Homo sapiens: one gene and its partners. The protein of the gene in region 2 purifies or fractionates together with the protein of the main gene of each other region. This does not show direct contact. Each region holds a gene or a part of one and is shown on either strand. Other genes may lie near its edges.

The links.
Region 1: the proteins of AFG1L (region 2) and DDAH1 purify together in Homo sapiens (affinity purification with mass spectrometry, with the first as the bait; one large-scale study listed by BioGRID). This does not show direct contact.
Region 3: the proteins of AFG1L (region 2) and WDR13 fractionate together in Homo sapiens (co-fractionation; one large-scale study listed by BioGRID). This does not show direct contact.
Region 4: the proteins of AFG1L (region 2) and STARD7 purify together in Homo sapiens (co-immunoprecipitation; one large-scale study listed by IntAct). This does not show direct contact.

Annotation. Positions count from the first base shown.
Region 1 is NC_000001.11:85,462,006-85,467,098, reverse strand, and holds the start of DDAH1 (N(G),N(G)-dimethylarginine dimethylaminohydrolase 1), read left to right. Parts: upstream 1-1,939; 5' UTR 1,940-2,053; coding exon 2,054-2,356; intron 2,357-2,499; exon of another isoform or gene 2,500-2,579; coding exon of another isoform or gene 2,580-2,603; intron 2,604-5,093. UniProt on the Homo sapiens protein: Hydrolyzes N(G),N(G)-dimethyl-L-arginine (ADMA) and N(G)-monomethyl-L-arginine (MMA) which act as inhibitors of NOS. Has therefore a role in the regulation of nitric oxide generation.
Region 2 is NC_000006.12:108,322,075-108,326,735, forward strand, and holds part of AFG1L (AFG1-like ATPase), read left to right. Parts: intron 1-1,750; coding exon 1,751-1,974; intron 1,975-4,661. UniProt on the Homo sapiens protein: Putative mitochondrial ATPase. Plays a role in mitochondrial morphology and mitochondrial protein metabolism.
Region 3 is NC_000023.11:48,600,021-48,604,681, forward strand, and holds part of WDR13 (WD repeat-containing protein 13), read left to right. Parts: intron 1-298; coding exon 299-606; intron 607-1,763; coding exon 1,764-1,944; intron 1,945-2,044; coding exon 2,045-2,186; intron 2,187-4,251; coding exon 4,252-4,370; intron 4,371-4,661.
Region 4 is NC_000002.12:96,184,263-96,188,923, reverse strand, and holds the end of STARD7 (stAR-related lipid transfer protein 7, mitochondrial isoform 1 precursor), read left to right. Parts: intron 1-1,622; coding exon 1,623-1,707; intron 1,708-2,009; coding exon 2,010-2,194; 3' UTR 2,195-4,065; downstream 4,066-4,661. UniProt on the Homo sapiens protein: May play a protective role in mucosal tissues by preventing exaggerated allergic responses.

The DNA of each region.
Region 1 (5,093 bases), on a different chromosome or scaffold from region 2:
TTGGGAGGCCGAGGCAGGCGGATCACCTCAGTTGAGGAGTTTGAGACTAGCCTGACCAACATGGAGAAACTCCGTCTCTACTAAAAATACAAAATTAGCCAGGCGTGGTGGCACATGCCTATAATCCCAGCTACTCGGGAGGCCGAGGCAGGAGAATCACTTGAACCCCGGTTGCAGAGGTTGCAGTGAGCTGAGATCGCGCCATTGCACTCCAGCCTGGGAAACAAGAGCGAAACTCCATCTCAAAAAAAAAAAAAAAAAAAAAAGAATAAATAATGAACTAATTTAAAAATAAATAAATTTTATATTTAACCAGGGCAAGCTTAAGGTAAAAGATCAACTTTCACCTGTAACTTTGATGGAAATCCTCCATCTGAGGACACCATTAAGTGATTTCTGACGCTAAACTGGGGCTAATGGGGCTGCCTGGATCCCCTAAGAATTTTGCTTTAGAAGTACTACCTAGTCGGTCTTAAAGGTTTGTTATTTTACTTTTGGTCCCACTTCCCAATGTCAGTGTCAGAGCTGTCCTTGAGACTCCTCAAATTTGGGCAGGGCGTGGTAGCTCATGCCTGTAATCCCAGCACTTTGGGAGGTGGAGGCGGGTGGATCACCTGAGGTCAGGAGTTCGAGACCAGCCTAGCCAACATGGTGAAACCCTGTCTCTGCTAAAAATACAAATTAGCCGCGAGTGGTGGCGTGCACCTGTAGTCCCAGCTACTCAGGAGGCTGAGGCAGGAGAATTGCTTGAACTGGGGAGGCAGCAGTTGAAGTAAGCCGAGATCGTGCCACTGCACTCCAGCCTGGGCAACAAGAGTGAAACTCCGTCAAAACAAAACAACAACAAAAAACAAAAAAAACTCCTCAAATGTGAAGCTGAGAATTTTGAAGCTCATTTATAAATTCACACCACCCTTGTGGGAGGGGAGAGAAGGCAGATCACATCTCTGGGCTCAGTTGGGGCAACCATTCTAGGATGCTCAGAGAGACCTGCTCCTAGAAATCCAGAGTTTCCTAAAAGCTGGGATCAGAGTTCTGGCAAGAAGGCTGTAGCCTGGGCCTTGGCCCTAGACCACCAAAAAAGTGAATACAGGCTTAGGCAGTGTTCATAGAGGCCCAGCATCTGGAACAAGGGTGCTGCTGTAGTCTGTGCTGGTCAGACCACACAGGAAGAATTGTTTATTTTCCGGATACTATGATTTTAAAAGGATACAAGCAAATTGGTGTGTATCAAAAGGAAGCTGACCAGAATGTTGAAGGGACTTGGAAACCAAATCACTAGTTACTTTTCAGTGGTTTGGGCTCCAGGACTGGAGGGGGTTTAGGGTGGGGGGTAGAGGATGGTGTTAGGCAGCATAGATAATTAGAACTGTTTTCAGATATGCAAATGCTGTTTTGTGAAAACACACACACACGCGAACACACACAAAACAAGAAAAACTTGTACTTTAGGTAAGGCCAGAAAACAGAACTGGGACCCGTGGGATTTAAGCTCAACATGAAGAATCTGTAAACCATTATAGCTCTTCAAAAGTGGGCTAGACTTTGTAAGCACGCAAGGTTTAAACTGTTCAGGTAAAGACCAGGAAGCCCTCCAGCTGCTCTGTCCAGACCGAGGCCGGCTCTCCAAGTCCGCGCTGGGGACGATGGGAGGTGTGCACCTGCGACAGAACACAGGTACCGCCAGGTCCGGGTAGCGGTGGCTTTTCGCCGAGGTCCCCCGCCTCCGCATACTTCTTGCCCTCGCTGCTTCCCCGGCCGCCTCTCCTGGCCCCACTCCTCGCCCGGCGCTCGCCGCTACAACTCCCGCCTGGGCTGGCGCGAGACCCGCGAGCGCCGGAGTGGGCGCGCGGGATGCGCGCGGGCCGGCGCCCGGAGCTCTGGGCATGCTCAGTCGCGCGGGCAGGGCTCCGGGCGCGAGCTGGGCTCCTTCTGCACCACATTCAGCGGCTGCCAAGAGGAGCCGACGGGCGCTCGCAGGCTCAGCGCGCGCTGCCCGCGGCAGGACCCGGCCGCCTCCGCCGCCGCCGCCGCCCCTAAGCCTCCCGAAGCCATGGCCGGGCTCGGCCACCCCGCCGCCTTCGGCCGGGCCACCCACGCCGTGGTGCGGGCGCTACCCGAGTCGCTCGGCCAGCACGCGCTGAGAAGCGCCAAGGGCGAGGAGGTGGACGTCGCCCGCGCGGAACGGCAGCACCAGCTCTACGTGGGCGTGCTGGGCAGCAAGCTGGGGCTGCAGGTGGTGGAGCTGCCGGCCGACGAGAGCCTTCCGGACTGCGTCTTCGTGGAGGACGTGGCCGTGGTGTGCGAGGAGACGGCCCTCATCACCCGACCCGGGGCGCCGAGCCGGAGGAAGGAGGTAACTGCCGACTCGAGGGGCGCGGCCGGGGCGCGCGCCAGGCCCTCCCCCGCCGCCGGCCGCCGTGTTGCCTGGGGAGTCGCGCCATTGGCCCTCGGGCTAGTAGTTCACAACTTCCCGTCGGGGGGCGAGTGTGTGTGTGTGTGTGTGTGTCAGAGAGTCAGAGAGAAGTTCATTGTTCACACCTCCCGGCTGCCGGCAGCCTTCTGGAGGATCCGATTCAATGTGGTTGTACGGTCTCGGGCAGGTGGGTGGGCGGGGGATTCCGTCTCACGGGCATTTTTATTTGTGAAAATTAAACGGCAGCGACGACAGTGCAACTCTGAGTGTTTCCCAGGGAGCGAGGGCCGCGAGGGGTGCCGCTCCGGTAGGGCGGGTGGAGGCTGGGCGTCCCTCCAGGGGGCAGCGCCAGTCGTGACACCGAAGCCCCCAAGTCCTGCCTGGCGCTCGGAGCAGGACAAGCTGGATGAATTAACGGGGTGTCGGTGCCCACAGACCTGGGGCTTCTCAAGTTAGTTTTCAGTGGTGGCGAGTGAGTCCCAAAGAACGGGACTAGTAAGTGAATGAATGGAAGGAAAAGTGTTTTGTTGGTGAGCTGTGCTAAATGTGTGCATGAATGGGCTAGGTTTGAAAAGCTGTACTCTGTGCGGTGTTGGGTGTGTGTGCTAGCGAGCGTGTTTAATTAGAGATGGTTGTTTCACAAATTCCATAATTTTTATTCTCTATATTTTTAAACTCACAGCAATTAAGAGAGTTTTTCTGTTCTCAAGGGTTGTAACTACTTTGAAATACTGCAGCTTGTGAAATGGCTGATTGCTTTAAGTGCAATGTAGGTTAGTGGGGAGAGACAAATAGAGTGAGATTGGATTTTAAAATGCCATCTGGCCTGGGATTCTTCTCATTGCCAGTTAAGAGCCCAGGCTCAAGACTCCGTTGCTATTGGCATCCAGTGGCATTGCAAGAAGCTAGTGGTTTCTTTCATTTCTGGAGATTTAAGAATTTTTTTTCTATTTTGTCTGTATTCACTTCACATTGGAAATGCCTCATAGAGCTTATGATAAAATATGCTTATTCCTCACCTGCTCCACTACTTGGTTGATGGAATGCCACATGGTCTGAGAAAATAAGCATATTCTACTAATTTCTCATCGAGATAATCAGCTTTTATTTCACCCTCCATTAACAGAAAACCAAAAGAGTAACAGATCTCTGCTAGCCCTTTGATGTCTTTGCCACACCTCTCCATCTTTGAGTCTGTGAGATGTCCCACTCTTTTAAACTGATAAGGAATGTAATCCCATTTGAATACTTTCTAATGCGTTCTAGGCCAAATGGCAGAGCTATGGTTTGAACTTAAAAGAGCAAAATCGATTTCAAAACCCTTTCAAAATGGCACTCTTTTGATGAGAGTAGTCCAATTTCTTCTCAAGAGACTGTCACCATATTTATTCACCCATTTCATTTTATTCCTATAATAAAAGCTTCCAAGCTTTGGCCTCCCTGATACCTAAGTGAGCAGTGATCTTTTTCCCCTGCCTAGATTTTGAAGCATACATTTTAAATTGGTTTAATTCTGATATCAGCCTGGTGGCCCACTGCCAGAAGTCACATGGTGTAGTGGATAAAAACATTAGACTGAATCTCAGCTCTACCACTTTCTAATTCTGTGACCTTTAGGGAGTGTCTCTTGCCTCAGTTTTCGCATCTATACAGTGGACATAATAATACCTGTTTCACAAAGTTGTTGTAATAGATGTATTAATCTACCTGAAATTCACAGGACAGGACATTTGATGAATGTTGACTATTATTATTCACTTAACTATGGATCAGGGAAGATTTACTCCGTTAATAAGAAGTCAGCTATACACTGATGTAGTTAGTGACATCTCTCTACTATGTGATACTGCCTCTGGGTTTGGGTCTCCTGCTGGTGCCTGCCTTTGCATTGCACATGATCTGGGTCACCAGGGTAACAGGCCTCCCAGGCAGGGAGAGGAATATGGGCAGTCAGTGTTGGATGGGATGCTTCTGGAGGGCAGAGTCATGTAGGGCAATGCTTGTAGAAATCTCTCACGGCACCAGCTCACCGCCTTGGTAGGTGTTAATGCTTGTTGAGTGAGTGGATGAATGAATGAATGATGAATGAAATGCTAATACAAGAAGATAGTTACTTCAAGACCCTCTATGGATTGCTGTATATTTTTTTCATGTGATGTCTGCATTCCCAACTGTGAAAATCCACAGTAGCCAAGGAATTATTTTAAAATTATTGTCACTGATCTCTGCCTCTAGTCTTGTCAATTTTCCATTCCATTCCCACACTGTAGCCAAGCTGGTCTTTTAAAAACTCAGATCTGATCCTGTCCCTTCTCTGACTAAAATTCTCAAGGGGCCCCCACTGAGCTTAGATAAACCCATTGAGCTGGGCTGTGCTTGCCTTTCCAGCTTCAGCTTCACCTCTGATCCCACCCCAAGCATCCCCTGATCCATGGATCGAGCGAGGTTCTTTCACTGAAGCTCACCAGACTATTGCTTTTATTTTGTCCGGGTACTCTTCCTCTTTCCTCTCTTCCCTTTTATCTGTCTTAAGTTCTCAGCTTACTGTTATCACTATTATTAGCTAATATTTATTGGGTACTTGCCACTTGCCATACACCATACCAGATTTATGATGTGCATTTCATTAATACTCACATCAACTCTTTGAACTCAATACTATCATAATTCCTATTTT
Region 2 (4,661 bases):
ATTTGTTATTTTTAGTAGAGATGAGGTCCTACTATGTTGCCCAGGCTGGTCTCGAACTCCTGAGCTCAAGTGATCTGCCTGTCTCAGCCTCCCAAAGTGCTAGGATTACAGGTGTGAGCCACTGTGCCTGGCCGGAAGTTTATTATTCTTTTACATAAAAATCCAGGTAGGCAATCCAAAGCTGGTTTGGCAGCTCAGCATTGTTGGAGAACCAGGCTTTGTGTATCTTGTTGCTCTGCTTCATTCAACATTCTGTGTGCATCTCATTGCCTCTTCCAGCTGCAGTCATTACACTTTCACTCCAGTTAGAGAGAAGGGAGGAAAAGGGAGCCAGGAGGATATGCCCTTTTCCTTTAATGGGGTATGTCAGAACTACACACGTTTCTGCTCATATCCCATTGTTAGAACCTGCTCACATGGCCATACCTGACTGCAAGAGAGGCCAGGAGATGTAATATGTGTCTGGGCAGCCATGCATCCAGCTAAAACTTCTATTTAGAAAGGTGGAACAAATAATGGAAGACAGCCGTCCCTATCTCCAACATTCATGATATATTTAAGGACTTTTCCCCCTCTTTTGGGGAAAACATGGACCTAACATTGTGATTGTTAATTCTTTTTGCTAAAGTAATTTTTATGTTATTGTGACAAAGGAAACATGATGTTCAATGAAATGAATAAAATGCTGGCAGAGTACCTTTGGGAAATCTTGTTCTGAAAAATGTGCCAGGTTGCTGCTGTTTATTGTTGCTTCTAAACAGTAGAGAAGGAGTTAGCTGCTTATTAAACCTGCCCCACATAAGGAATGGAATTATGGTTGGACCTCGCCACAATCATTTCTCTCCCAGGAGAGGCCAAAAATAGGATCAGAACACCACCCTGCTTTGAAGCAGACACTCTTGCTGTGTCTCAATTCCATGTCCAACTCCGTAAAGGTTATGGAAAACAGAAAAAGATCTCAGAAGCAGAGGGCTGAAATCGATGTGGTAATATCTGAATGTTATGTTGTCTTTGAGTAGAGAATTAAGGAACAGTGGAAAACCCTTGGGACTAGTCTTCACGTCTTTGTCTTGGTGCTTAAGAACCAGAATTAGGGTTTACTCAAAGAAAGGCAACTCTCTTGCTTTGGGAAGGAGATGAGGAACCCCAGTGTCTCCTTCAGTGGACTGGAAGCAAAGCAGAAGCTGTAGTAGGAATAGGCCTTCTGGAAGAGAGGTTACAATTATAGTTTATGGGTTTGGGGTTTGTTTCCTTTTGTTAAAATAAAACAATTAGAAATATATTCATTGTTTAATTATTTTTTTTTTGAGACCGAGTGTCACTCTGTCACCCAGGCTGGAGTACAGTGGCACAATCTCTGCTCACTTCATCCCCTGCCTCCCAGGTTCAAGCAATTCGTGCCTCAGCCCCCCAGGTAGCTGGGATTACAAGCATGCACCACCATGCCCAGCTAATTTTTGTGTTTTTAGTAGAGATGTGGTTTCACCATTTGGCCAGGATGATCTTGAACTCCTGACCTCAAGTGATCTGCCTGCCTTGGTCTCCCAAAGTGCTGGAATTACAGGCGTGAGCCACCATGCCTGGCTGAAAATGTATTTTATATTATTTTTATCAAAATGACATTTACAAAAACTGCTCCAATAGATATACTTGTAACTAGTTAAAAGTTTGAATTTGACCCTTAAGAAATGTGTAGAGCACTGTGAAAATGTATTTAAGAAAGTCTAAAATTTTATGTTTTTGTTTATAGCCTATACGGTTCAGACATCCGAGAGCATGACCCCAACTGCCACTTCAGAGACTTATTTGAAAGCTTTGGCCGTTTGCCATGGACCTCTGGACCACTATGATTTTCTGATCAAAGCTCATGAGCTAAAGGATGATGAACATCAAAGAAGAGTCATACAGTGTTTGCAGAAATTACACGAGGACCTTAAAGGATACAATATAGAGGCAGAAGGCCTTTTTTCAAAGGTGAGGCTTGTGTGATATGAAAGATTAAACAGTTAAAAGTGTAAGCATTTTCTAAAATGGATGCAATGCAGTAGGACACAATCATGAAACATCTTGAAAAATTTTCACCAGTTCCTTTACACAAATTCTGTTGGATCCCCATTCCTGGCCTTTTGATGTTCCATAGCTTTCTTTTGCCTTCAGGGGTTTGAATAGCTTCATATTTAGGTATTTAAAAAATGCAGTCCAGTCTAAATAAAAACTTCTATGGAAATTAAAGCTTTCCCTTTCCTCTAGCTCAGGCCTCATCCAGGGATCAGCAGTGGAAAAGGAGGAGTGATGTGTTCTTTCCCTTTTCTTCCTCCTTCTTTCTCTGTTTGCCTGACATCTCTAGGGTCAGAATGAGAAGAATGAAAGATTAGAGTGAAACAGCAGCCTTAAGTGACCAGTTAGTTACTGGGGCCTTTGTATGGTAGATGCTGACGTGCTAGCTCTTTGTTGAGGGTCTTATTGGTGGGTTCTTCAAGACTCCCATGGGGACCTCCACACTTCTCCAGTCTTTGACTAACCTCTTATGACTCTGGGGAAGCAACTCACAACCCTGCATTCTGCCGACACCGCCTTGCTCTTGCCCTTAGCCTTCTTGGGTGGGGTCCTTTCAGGACTTTTTTTTTTTTTTTTTGAGACAGAGTCTCGCTCTGTCACTTGGGCTGGAGTGCAGTGGCACGATATCTTGGCTCCTGGCAACCTTTGCCTCCTGGATTCAAGCGATCGTCCTGCCTCAGCCTCCCAAGTAACTGGGTAACAAGCGTGGACCACCACACTCAGCTAATTTTTGTATTTTTAGTAGAGACGGGGTTTCACCATGTTGGCCAGGCTGGTCTTGAACTCCTGACCTCAAGTGATCCACCTGTCTCGGCCACCCAAAGTGCTGGGATTACAGGTGTGAGCCACTGTGCCTGGCCTGGGACATTTCTTATTGGGTCATCTTTTATGGTGTCCGTGCAGGCCACAGGAAACATAACATCTCCTTTCGCCACCCCTTGCTGCATGGGCAGCCTCAGTCAGCCTCCTGTCCTCAGACTTCTGCAAGCAAGAAGCAGGCACTGGTTTCTGTCTTTGTCATGCATACCCCTTTCTCCTGGGGACTTATATCAAGTTCTCCCATGAACTCTTCCACACTCTGCTCTGGCAGCTGCTTGTGCATTTCCTTACCTAGGCAAGCATCCAGCTGGGGAGAGCGATGTCCATCTCAATTTATATTCAATCCTCATCTCTTTGGATGCTTCTCTTGGGAACCCCTCGTATTTGTTACGAGATATCTGAAGGGCACACCATGGCACTCTACCCAGCTAACTTTCTACCTTGATCACTTTCTTCAGTTTCACTTTGGTTTTAGGGCTGTTTTGCCTTTTTTTTTTTTTTAAACCTAATTCCTGCATGGATGTGACTAGTGTGTATTTATTTATTTATTTATAGATGGATTTTTGCTCTATTGCCCAGGCTAGAGGGCAGTGGTGTGATCTTGGCTCACTGCAACCTCCACCTCCCAGGTTCAAGCAGTCCTCCTGCTTCAGCCTCCTGAGTAGCTGGGATTACAGGCACACACCACCACACCTAGCTAATTTTTGTGCTTTTAGTAGAGATGGGGTTTCACCATGTTTGTCAGGCTGGTCTCGAACTCCTGACCTCAGGTGATCCGCCCACCTCGGCCTCCCAAAGTGCTGGGATTACAGGCATAAGCCACTGCACCTGACCTATTTATTTATTTGAGACAGAGTGTTACTCTGTCTCCCGGGCTGAAGTGCAGTAGTGTGATATCTTGGCTCACTGTAGCCTCCGCCTCCCAGGTTCAAACGATTCTCCTGCCTCCCAAATAGCTGGGATTACAGGCACCTGCCACCATGCCTGGCTAATTTTTGTATTTTTAGTAGAGATGGGGTTTTGCCATACTGGCCGGGCTTGTCTTGAACTCCTGATCTCAAATGATCCCCCTGCTTCGGCCTCCCAAAGTGCTGGGATTACAGACATGAGCCACTGTGCCTGGCCTATTTTTTTTTGGAGATACTGTCTCATTCTGTCACCCAGGTGGGGTGCAGTAGCACAATCATAGCTCACTAGTAGCCTTGAAGTCCTGGGCCCAAGTGATTCTCCTCCCGCAGCCCCCTGAGTAGGCTAGGGCTACAGGCATGCATCACCATGCTCCACTAATTTTTTAATTTTTTTGTAGAGACAGGACCTTACTCTGTTGCCAGGCTGGTCTTGAACTTCTGGTCTTAAGCAATCCTCCTGCCTCAGCCTCTAAAGCACTGGGATAATTGGTGTGAGTCACCACACTCAGCCTATGTCTTTCTTTAGCGTGAGTGGGAGCTTATTTTCCCTGGTCATCAGCTTTGAGCTTTTGTTGAAATTCTATGACAACAGGAAAACTCCTGTTCCTTATCTAATATAGAAGCCAATAGTCTCATCTTTAAGTTCTGGAGAAAACATTAATAGTAGTAAGAGTTAAAATATGGTCCAACCTAAGAAACTAGTTTTCCTTTAATTGACTTTCCCCACCCCCTGCCAAATACGCTTTTACTGTAACGTCTTTAGAAGAAAGGCACCATAGAACAACCATTAGTAGTACTTTATTTAAAAATGAATGAGGGGCCAGACGCAGTGGCTCACGCCTGTAATCCCAGCACTTTGGGAAGCCGAGGTGGGCA
Region 3 (4,661 bases), on a different chromosome or scaffold from region 2:
TGTCAAGGGTTTTGCAAATTGCCAAGACCTTGATTATAAAGTGTTCGCTAAGACAGGAACTTTTTCATGTTGCAGAAGACTTTTGCAATCTGCAAAGGAGCTGCTAAGACTTAGGGAGCTTTGGCAGAGGGTCTTCAGGGGTTACAGTTCCCTTTGTCAGCCAAGGAAAGCCCTTTGCTGAGGCCACTGTTCCTCATGCAGTGGGGCCCCAGCCCCAGGCACACACGTCAGAGCCTTTTAGAGAGAAAAGTGCCCAGTGAGTGTGCAGATTCCCACTAATGGCTTCTTGGCATTGCAGTCCCAAGGGTGCGCTTCGCCAATGATGACCGACACCGCCTGGCCTGCTGCTCACTCGACGGCAGCATCTCCCTGTGCCAGCTGGTGCCTGCCCCACCCACAGTGCTTCGCGTGCTACGGGGCCACACCCGTGGTGTCTCCGACTTCGCCTGGTCCCTCTCCAATGACATCCTCGTGTCCACCTCACTGGATGCCACCATGCGCATCTGGGCCTCTGAGGATGGTCGCTGCATCCGAGAGATCCCTGACCCCGATAGCGCTGAACTGCTCTGCTGCACCTTCCAGCCTGTCAACAACAACCTCACTGTGGTCAGGCTCCAGGACACCCACTCACCAAGGGCTGGTGGGCTGGGTCAGGAAGGCTATCTGAGGGAATCAGAGTATAAGGAGGGACAGCCAGGGGGGGCCTAGGACCCCCCCACCCCCCACCCAATCTCGTCAGAGCAGTCCTAGTGTGGTCAGACTTAAAAGGGAAGCAGATCAGAAGACGGGAGTGGGCCAGGCGCAGTGGCTCACGCCTGTAATCCCAGCACTTTGGGAGGCGGAGGCGGGCGGATCACGAGGTCAGGAGATTGAGACCATCCTGGCTAACACGGTGAAACCCCATCTCTACTAAAAATACAAAAAATTAGCCGGGCATGGTGGCGGGCGCCTATAGTCTCAGCTACTTGGGAGGCTGAGGCAGGAGAATGGTGTGAACCTGGGAGGTGGAGCTTGCAGTGAGCCGAGATGGCACCACTGGGCGACAGAGCGAGACTCCGCCCCCACCCCCCATAAAAAGGGGAATGCCGTTCTTGATCTGGGTTGGCCTTGCTGTGGTACACTCCAGGGAGCACGGGCCAGGGTCAGGGTTCTGGCTCTGGAGCCCCTTTGGTCCCATCAGCTACAGTCCTACAGTTTTCCAACTGCAGGGGCTACCTCTGAGGAGCAGGATGATGAGGCTGAGCCTCGTCTGGTCTGTCAGTGGCCCCACCGTGTCAGACTCCAGGGTAGATTGGTCAGAGAGCAGGGGAAGGACATTAGAAAGTCTGGTGTGGCCCGGGGTGTAGTGGGGTGAACTGCAGAGGAACAGACCAAGAGTGAGCTTGTGGGCCGGGATCCTCCCCGCATTAGCAGCAGCCCCACAAGTTCCAGAAAGGAGCAGCCAGGGAGCAGGGGAAAGCTGGGATCACAGGCCTAGGCAGGCCCTATGGTTCTCACACTGTAGGAGGACTGGCCAAGGGGCAGCATGATGGCTCTGAAGGCCCTTTAGTCCCGTAGGCAGGTGGCCTACTCTGGGCAGATTGCAAAAGGGGCTGGCTAGGGAGGTGGATTCATGCCTGGTCACCTTGTCTACCTGCCACAGCCCTATTGTGAATAGACTCTAATAGGGACCAGCCAGTCGCATCAACAGCAGCCCCACTGTGGTCAGACTCAAGGAGGGCCTGGCTGGAAGCAGGATGATGGTCTGTGCATTCTCCCCACAGGTGGGGAACGCCAAGCACAACGTGCATGTCATGAACATCTCCACAGGCAAGAAAGTGAAGGGGGGCTCCAGCAAGCTGACAGGCCGTGTCCTTGCTCTGTCCTTTGATGCCCCTGGCCGGCTGCTCTGGGCGGGTGATGACCGTGGCAGTGTCTTCTCTTTCCTCTTTGATATGGCCACAGGTAGGCAGACAGCAGGCCTGCATCTGGGTGCTCGCCCTCCAGCCCTCCCAGGGCACAGCCCTCACCCTCACCTTTGCCTTCCCTCCCTCTGCTGCTGCAGGGAAGCTGACCAAAGCCAAGCGTTTGGTGGTGCATGAGGGGAGCCCTGTGACCAGCATCTCAGCCCGGTCCTGGGTCAGCCGCGAGGCCCGGGATCCCTCACTGCTCATCAATGCTTGCCTCAACAAGTTGCTGCTCTACAGGTGGGTCCCCCATCAGGGCCTCCTGGAGACGGAGGACCTGCCTCCTCCAGCACACTGGGACAGTAGCTCATCTCCTCCATCAGGTTAATTTAATTGAGGGAGCAGTAGTAGCAGTAACAGTAATAGCAGTAGTGAGCGCGTTTACAGCCATCACTGTGGCCAGGCCCTGTTCGAAGCAGTTTCCACGTATCACCACATTCAATCCTTGCACCGACCTGTGAGGTAGGTGCTGTTATTATCTCCATTTTGCAGGTGAGCAAACTGAAGCATAAAATAGATTAGGGCTACTTAAAGCAGAGACCTGTTTTCCTTTCTTCCTTCCTTCCTTTTTTTTTTTTTTTTTTTGCGGGGAGTAGTGTGGGGGTTACTGTCCCCACTCACATCTGTCATGTTACCCAAATGCAGTTCTCAGCCTGGGCCACACATTGGAATGACCTGAAGAGCTTCAAAAACTCCTGTCTGGGCCCCTCTACAGGCCAGTAATTTCAGAAGCTTTGGGATGGGCCTGGGCATTGGTAGATTGAGAAATTCCCTAAGCAATGTCTGGCCAGTCCTGAAAACCACTGCCTAACAGGATGCTTTTTATTCTACCCCTTTATTTCTCTCCTCCTTTTTAAACAATTTCTGTATATATACTTAACAATTTTTTAATTTAAGCGTACCCTTAAGTTTGCCCATTTCCCACAGCCTCTCCTTTCTTCCTCCTGCCACCTCTGGCCTCCTCCTGCCACAGTAAAGCCCATTAATGATCCACATCTTTCCACATATCCTTCTCTTTCCACAAATCCTAGGCGTGTACATATATCCATGTATGTTTTTGTTTGTTTGTGAGACAGGGTTTTGCTGTTACCCAGATTGGAGTGCAGTGGCATGATCATGGCTCACTGCAACCTCCAACTCCTGGGCTCATGCGATTCTCCCACCTCAGCCTAAGTAGCTGAGATTACAGGCACACGCCACCATGCTCGGCCAACCTTTTTAATCTATTTTTTGTAGAGATGAGGTTTTGCTGTGTTACTCAGTCTGGTCTTAAACTCTTGGCCTCAAGTGATCCTTGTACCTTGGCCTCCCAAAGTGCTGGGATTACAGACGTGAGCCACCTTGCCTAGCTCCCACCACAGTTTTGAAAGAAAGACGTTTTAAAGAAATGGCCTTTTCCGGCCAGGCACAGTGGCGCACTCCTGTAATCTCAGCACTTTGGGAGGCCAAGGCGGGTGGATCACCTGAGGTCAGGAGTTCAAGACCAGCCTGGCCAACATGGTGAATCCCCGTCTCTACTAAAAATACAAAAATTAGCTGGGCATGGTGGCAGGCGCCTATAATCCCAGCTACTTGGGAGGCTGAGGCTGGAGAATTGCTTGAACTTGGGAGGCGGAGGTTGCAGCGAGGCGAGATCGTGCCATTGCACTCCAGCCTGGGTGACAGAGCCAGACTCCATCTCTTAAAAAAAGAAAGAAAAAAGAAATGGCCTTTCCTACATTTCGAGTTTCTCACCAGGCAATGCCTTGTGGAAACCCCCCCAGGTTACCTGTGGGGACAGTGTTTTATTCTCTCTAAGGGCTGTGCAGTTTTCCACAGTGTGGGCATACCATGGTGTGTTCATTTCCTCTCTTTGTGCTTATCTTAATACCAGGATCTTTTAGAGACCCTTACAAAGAAAAACTAGTGAATGAAACTGCAGAGGCTCCCATTTATATCAACAGAGACAGTTTCTGAACCATCAGTAACTCACACATCAGCCCCTACTTATAGTTTATGTAGTCATCTCAGAATTGGGTTTCATAAGCTGGGTGTGGTGTGTGCCTATAGGTAGTCCCGGCTACTCGGGAGACTGAGGCGGGAGGATCACTTGAGCCTAGGAGGTTGAGGCTGCAGTGAGCCGTGATCGCACCACTACACTCCAGCCTGGGTGACAGAGTGAGATCCTGTCTCAAAAACAAAAAAAAAAATATGGGTTTCATGAACCCTGTAAAGAACTTAGGCACAGGGGTGGGGACACAGGCCCACAACTTGTCTCCCTGCTAGGGCTGGGGCTGTGTTTTGACCCACTCTCTCATCCTCTCAGGGTGGTAGACAACGAGGGGACCCTGCAGCTGAAGAGAAGCTTCCCCATCGAGCAGAGCTCACATCCTGTGCGCAGCATCTTCTGTCCCCTCATGTCCTTCCGCCAGGGGGCCTGCGTGGGTGAGTCCTGTAGGGACAGGGGATCTGGGTGGCTGGGGAGGGGCAGGAACCAGGGCTGGTGCCAACCTGGCTCAGACATCACGACACCGATGCCCTGACTTCCTGGACCTCATGACCCCTCCTGCCCCAACAGCCTCACTGTGGAACTCACAGCTCCAAACAGCTCAGAGAACTCACAGTTTGCACTTGATCTCGGCCAAAAGGCCGAGAAGTGATGAAAACTCACACTTTGAACGCACTAACTCCCCAAACAGCCCAGAGACCTCGCATTCTGCACACAGTACCAAAACA
Region 4 (4,661 bases), on a different chromosome or scaffold from region 2:
TTGTTTTTGTTTGTTTTGTTTTGTTTTTCTGAGATGAGTTTCGCTCTTGTTGCCCAGGCTGGAGTGCGATGGCGTGATCTTGGCTCACTGCAACCTCCGCCTCCCGGGTTCAAGCAGTTCTCTTGCCTCAGCCTCCCGAGTAGCTGGGATTACTGGTGTGTGCCACCACACCTGGCTAGTTTTTTTTTTTCTTTGTATTTTCAGTAGAGACAGGGTTTTGCCATGTTGGCCAGGGTGGTCTCAAACTCCTGACCTCAGGTGATCCATCTGCCTCAGCCTCCCAAAGTGCTGAGATTACAGACGTGAGCCACCACACCCAGCCCAAAGTGTTTTTTAAAGACGGAGTCTTGGCTGGGTGCAGTGGCACACGCTTGTAATCCCAGCACTTTGGGAGGCCAAGGTGGGTGGATCACTTGAGGTCGGGAGTTCGAGACCAGCCTGACCAAGATGGAGAAGCCCCGTTTCTACTGAAAATACAAAATTAGCTGGGCATGGTGGTGCATGCCTGTAATCTCAGCTACTGGGGAGGCTGAGGCAGGAGAATCACTTGAACTCAGGAGGTGGAGGTTGTGGTGAGCCGAGATTGTGCCATTGCCCTCCATCCTGGGCAACAAGAACGAAACTCTGTCTCAAAAAAAAAAAAAAAAAAAAAAAAAAGTCTTGGTCTGTCACCCAGGCTGGAGTACAGTGGCTCAATCTGTGCTCACTGCAACCTCTGCCTCCCGGTTCAAACGATTCTCCTGCCTCAGACTCCCAAGTAACTGGGATTACAGGCGTGTACCACCACGCCCAGCTAATTTTTTAACTTTCAGTAGAGATGGGATTTCACCATGTTGGCCAGGCTGGTCTCGAACTCTGGTCCTCAAGTAATCTGCCTGCCTTGGGCTCCCAAAGTGCTGGGATTATAAGGCATGAGCCACCACGCCCAGCCAACACCCAATTTATTTATTTATTTATTTATTTTTTGAGACGGAGTCTCGCTCTGTTTCCCAGGCTGGAATGCAGTGGCTAGATCTTGGCTCACTGCAACCTCTGCCTCCCGGGTTCAAGCAATTCTTGTGCCTCAGCCTCCCGAGTAGCTGGGACTACAGGTGTGTGCCAGTATGGCCGGTTAATTTTTGTATTTTTGGTAGAGATGGGGTTTCACCATGTTGGCCAGGCTTGTCTTGAACTCTTGACCTCAGGTGATCCGCCTGCCTCGGCCTCCCAAAGTGCTGGGATTGTAGGCATGAGCCACCATGCCTGGCCTAACACCCAAAATTTTTATTGGGAGCTGGTCACTTAGTACCGTCTGCTTAGCACATACCAGAATTCCAAACCCTGCAAAGCAAAGCCTGTGTTCAGCATAAACCACGTTGTTTGCATAGTCTATGCACAGGGAGCCACCCATATCAGCTAACTGTTGACTGGGAGCGAAGTTGGCCAAGGGTCAACATTGCAAGGAGACCTTTCTATAGATAGTAGTCTCTCAGGCCTTCAGTGTTAACTCTTTTCTGCACAGGGTGAAAAAAGAAATGACACTCCCTGCTCCAGAATCAGATCATAGTTATTCTATGGTACTGGATATGGAGGTTGTGGTTGGTGATTCAGGGATCTTCATTTTTGCTGTTTTTCTTTTCCAGAATGGCTTTGACTACTTACTAACATACAGTGACAATCCCCAAACGGTGTTTCCTCGCTACTGTGTTAGTTGGATGGTTTCCAGTGGTAAGTAAGGGCAAGTATACAGGGCCTGGAACCTGGGTTGAGCATTTTGTTTTTCTCTATTTCCTAATGGGGAAATAAAACGTCTCTTCTGGTTCTTCTTTTTTTTTTTTTTCTGAGACAGAGTTTTCACAACCCATGCTTTGGGAACACATTCCGGGAGGCAGCTCTTATTCACAGGCTAGTCAGGTTGTGATCTTTATAAGGAAGAACTAGTTCCCTACCATCAAAGAAATAGGGTCTTCTCATTTTGAGCCTACTGTTGGTTTGTATGTCAGCTTAACCTGATTCTCGTCTCCTGACAGGCATGCCAGATTTCCTGGAGAAGCTGCACATGGCCACTCTGAAAGCCAAGAATATGGAGATTAAAGTAAAGGACTACATCTCAGCTAAGCCTCTGGAAATGAGTAGTGAAGCCAAGGCCACCAGCCAGTCCTCTGAGCGAAAGAACGAGGGCAGCTGTGGCCCTGCTCGGATTGAGTATGCTTGACAGGCTTTGGGATAAGAAGGGACAAGGTGCTTCTAGCCCTGTCTCAGTCCGTTATCACTCTGCTGTAGAAGGGGGACATGCCACATGTATTAGAAGGCATCTGCTGTAACTTCCAGTGCAAGATAATTCAATAACTGATGTCCCATTTCATTCAGAGCCCTTATTGCTCTTATCAAAACAGAAGAAGGCTACATTTGTGGGAGTGTTGTCATATTCTCAGGCCAACTGTTTTGAAATTCGGTATCTCACTGAGCTAATCTGGAACAAACCTCTCACCTCAGGCCAGAAGGGGATGACCTCCATTTGCTTCTCTGAGTAGTTTCCTCTGCTGACATTCCAAATCCCACCATCGATTGTGCAGCGCTTTGGATTTCCTTCAGTTCTCCAGGTCCACCTGGAAAGTATAGTTGGCCAGTTGAGTCTCTCAAATGAGGGGCTACTGGGAGTGCTCTTGGTAACAATCATGATGTGAATGGGTGTGAACGATACTTGGCTATGTTAAGTGCCTTGTCCGCACCTTGCTTTTATCTCTAGAGACATGAAGTTATTATTAATTTTTTTTTTTTTTAAGTAGAGATGGAGTTTCACTCTGTTTCCCAGGCTGGTCTTGAACTCCTGGGCCATGCCTGGCCAGGGACATGAATTTGTACAAAGAAATTTCCCTCCCTGCCTGCACAATATCACCCATTGACTCACCTTATCCAAAGCAAGTTTCCTGTGAATCGGCCAGTTCTTCTATATTCATTGGATCATTGCCTCCTTCCTAACCTTCCCCATTTACCAAGAACACTGGGAGACTAATCCTTTTAGATAGTAGCTTTTTGATGCTCAAAACATCACATTTAAATTTAGTTTAAAAATTTTTTAACTTTTGTGTCAAATAGGAGTTGAGGAATTGAGCAGGATTCTACCCTAGTCCGATTGTATAGAAAACACCATTTTGATTCAGGTATTATTTTTCATATTTCAGGTTTGACTTGTTCTTTTCAGAAGGCTAAAGTCAGAGGAATGGGGGCTGGGCCACTCCCTTGGAGCTCTCAGATCTACAGACAAGCTGTGTGAATGCATAGATGTAATCTTGTCTCAAATACTAATACAGTGGAGATTTGGTTTATGTTACCATTAAGTTCCTCTAAAAAGTTTTTCTTCCTCTCTTCAGAGCCAAAATAAAAGTGAACTACACTGTTCAGATAAGGTCACAATCTGATGCTGTCAGTTTGACCGAGCTGGTTTTGCTTATGGTCATGCTGCAATTTGTTAGAATAATAGGGATCAAGTTTTAAATCCTCCTCCTTCCCTTTTTTCTGGAGTCTTGAGGGCCAGAGTTTTTGTTTTTGTTTTTGTTTTTGTTTTCCTGCTTGCTACTGTTTTGTGGTGTTGAAAAGTGGTTTAAACCTGAGACTAACTTAAACACTTCCTTGACCTTCTTGTTGCCTGTTCATTTTTGTGCCAAGGAAGTAGCTGCCCCAGTGTATGTCTTGCCTTCTCCGCGTCATTGTTGGAAGAGGAGAGATGCATCGAGCAGTCCCAGCTGCTTTTCATTTATTACTTCTTCTTTCCAGGACCTGACAGAAGTCAGGGAAGAGTCCCTGGGTTATGTCCAAACTTAGCACCTGCAATTGTTGGGATGTGGATGGATGTGTGCATAAGAGAGAGAGAGAATATGTGTGTGTGTGTGTGCGTCTGCGAGCGCACACACATGCACAAGTGCGAAGGAGTTGCGGTTGCTCCATGTTCTGACTTAGGGCAATTTGATTCTGCACTTGGGGTCTGTCTGTACAGTTACTCATGTCATTGTAATGATTTCACTCCTAACTGTGACATTTTTATCAAATGTGTGAATAAATACATAAAGATTGGTACAAAAAAAAGTGTTTGTCTTTGGACAAATGGTGGTGGAAAAATCTTGCATATTGGACTTACCATTTCTTTCTGATCACAAAGTTGAAAAGAATTTTACTCTGAGAGTTGGGAGGTGGAAGTGGCAGGGCTTGTTCATTCTTGGTAGATAGTGGCTGACACAGTTTGCCTAGACCACGAGCCCTTTCCAAGTGACCTGCTTGGCAACTGAAAATAAACCACCTATGTCCACTTCCCTAGCTTGATATACTGACCCATATCCTTTCCCTTTAAAAAAAGATCACTTTGGAGGGAGCAGTGCTAGAGCTTAGCAGACGGTAGAAATCAGGAGGGACAGAAGCAGGCCTGAGGTCTAGGGTTGAGGTTGAGGAGAGGGTCAAGTCAGCGCTCTTGGCGGAGGGGCAGTCCTGCTGGCATGCTCTGAGCATAACATGAGTTTATGTGTAATTTTGCCTGTGGGAAGCACTAGGTGAACACAAAAGCACACCCAGTTGAACTGAGCTGCATAGGAACACACAAGGCACACGTCCCTGTGTGGTGTACCATCTGATTCCAGAGAACCGCACGCCCCATCTCATGCTTGCAAGCCGCAGCCCTTCCATCGGCC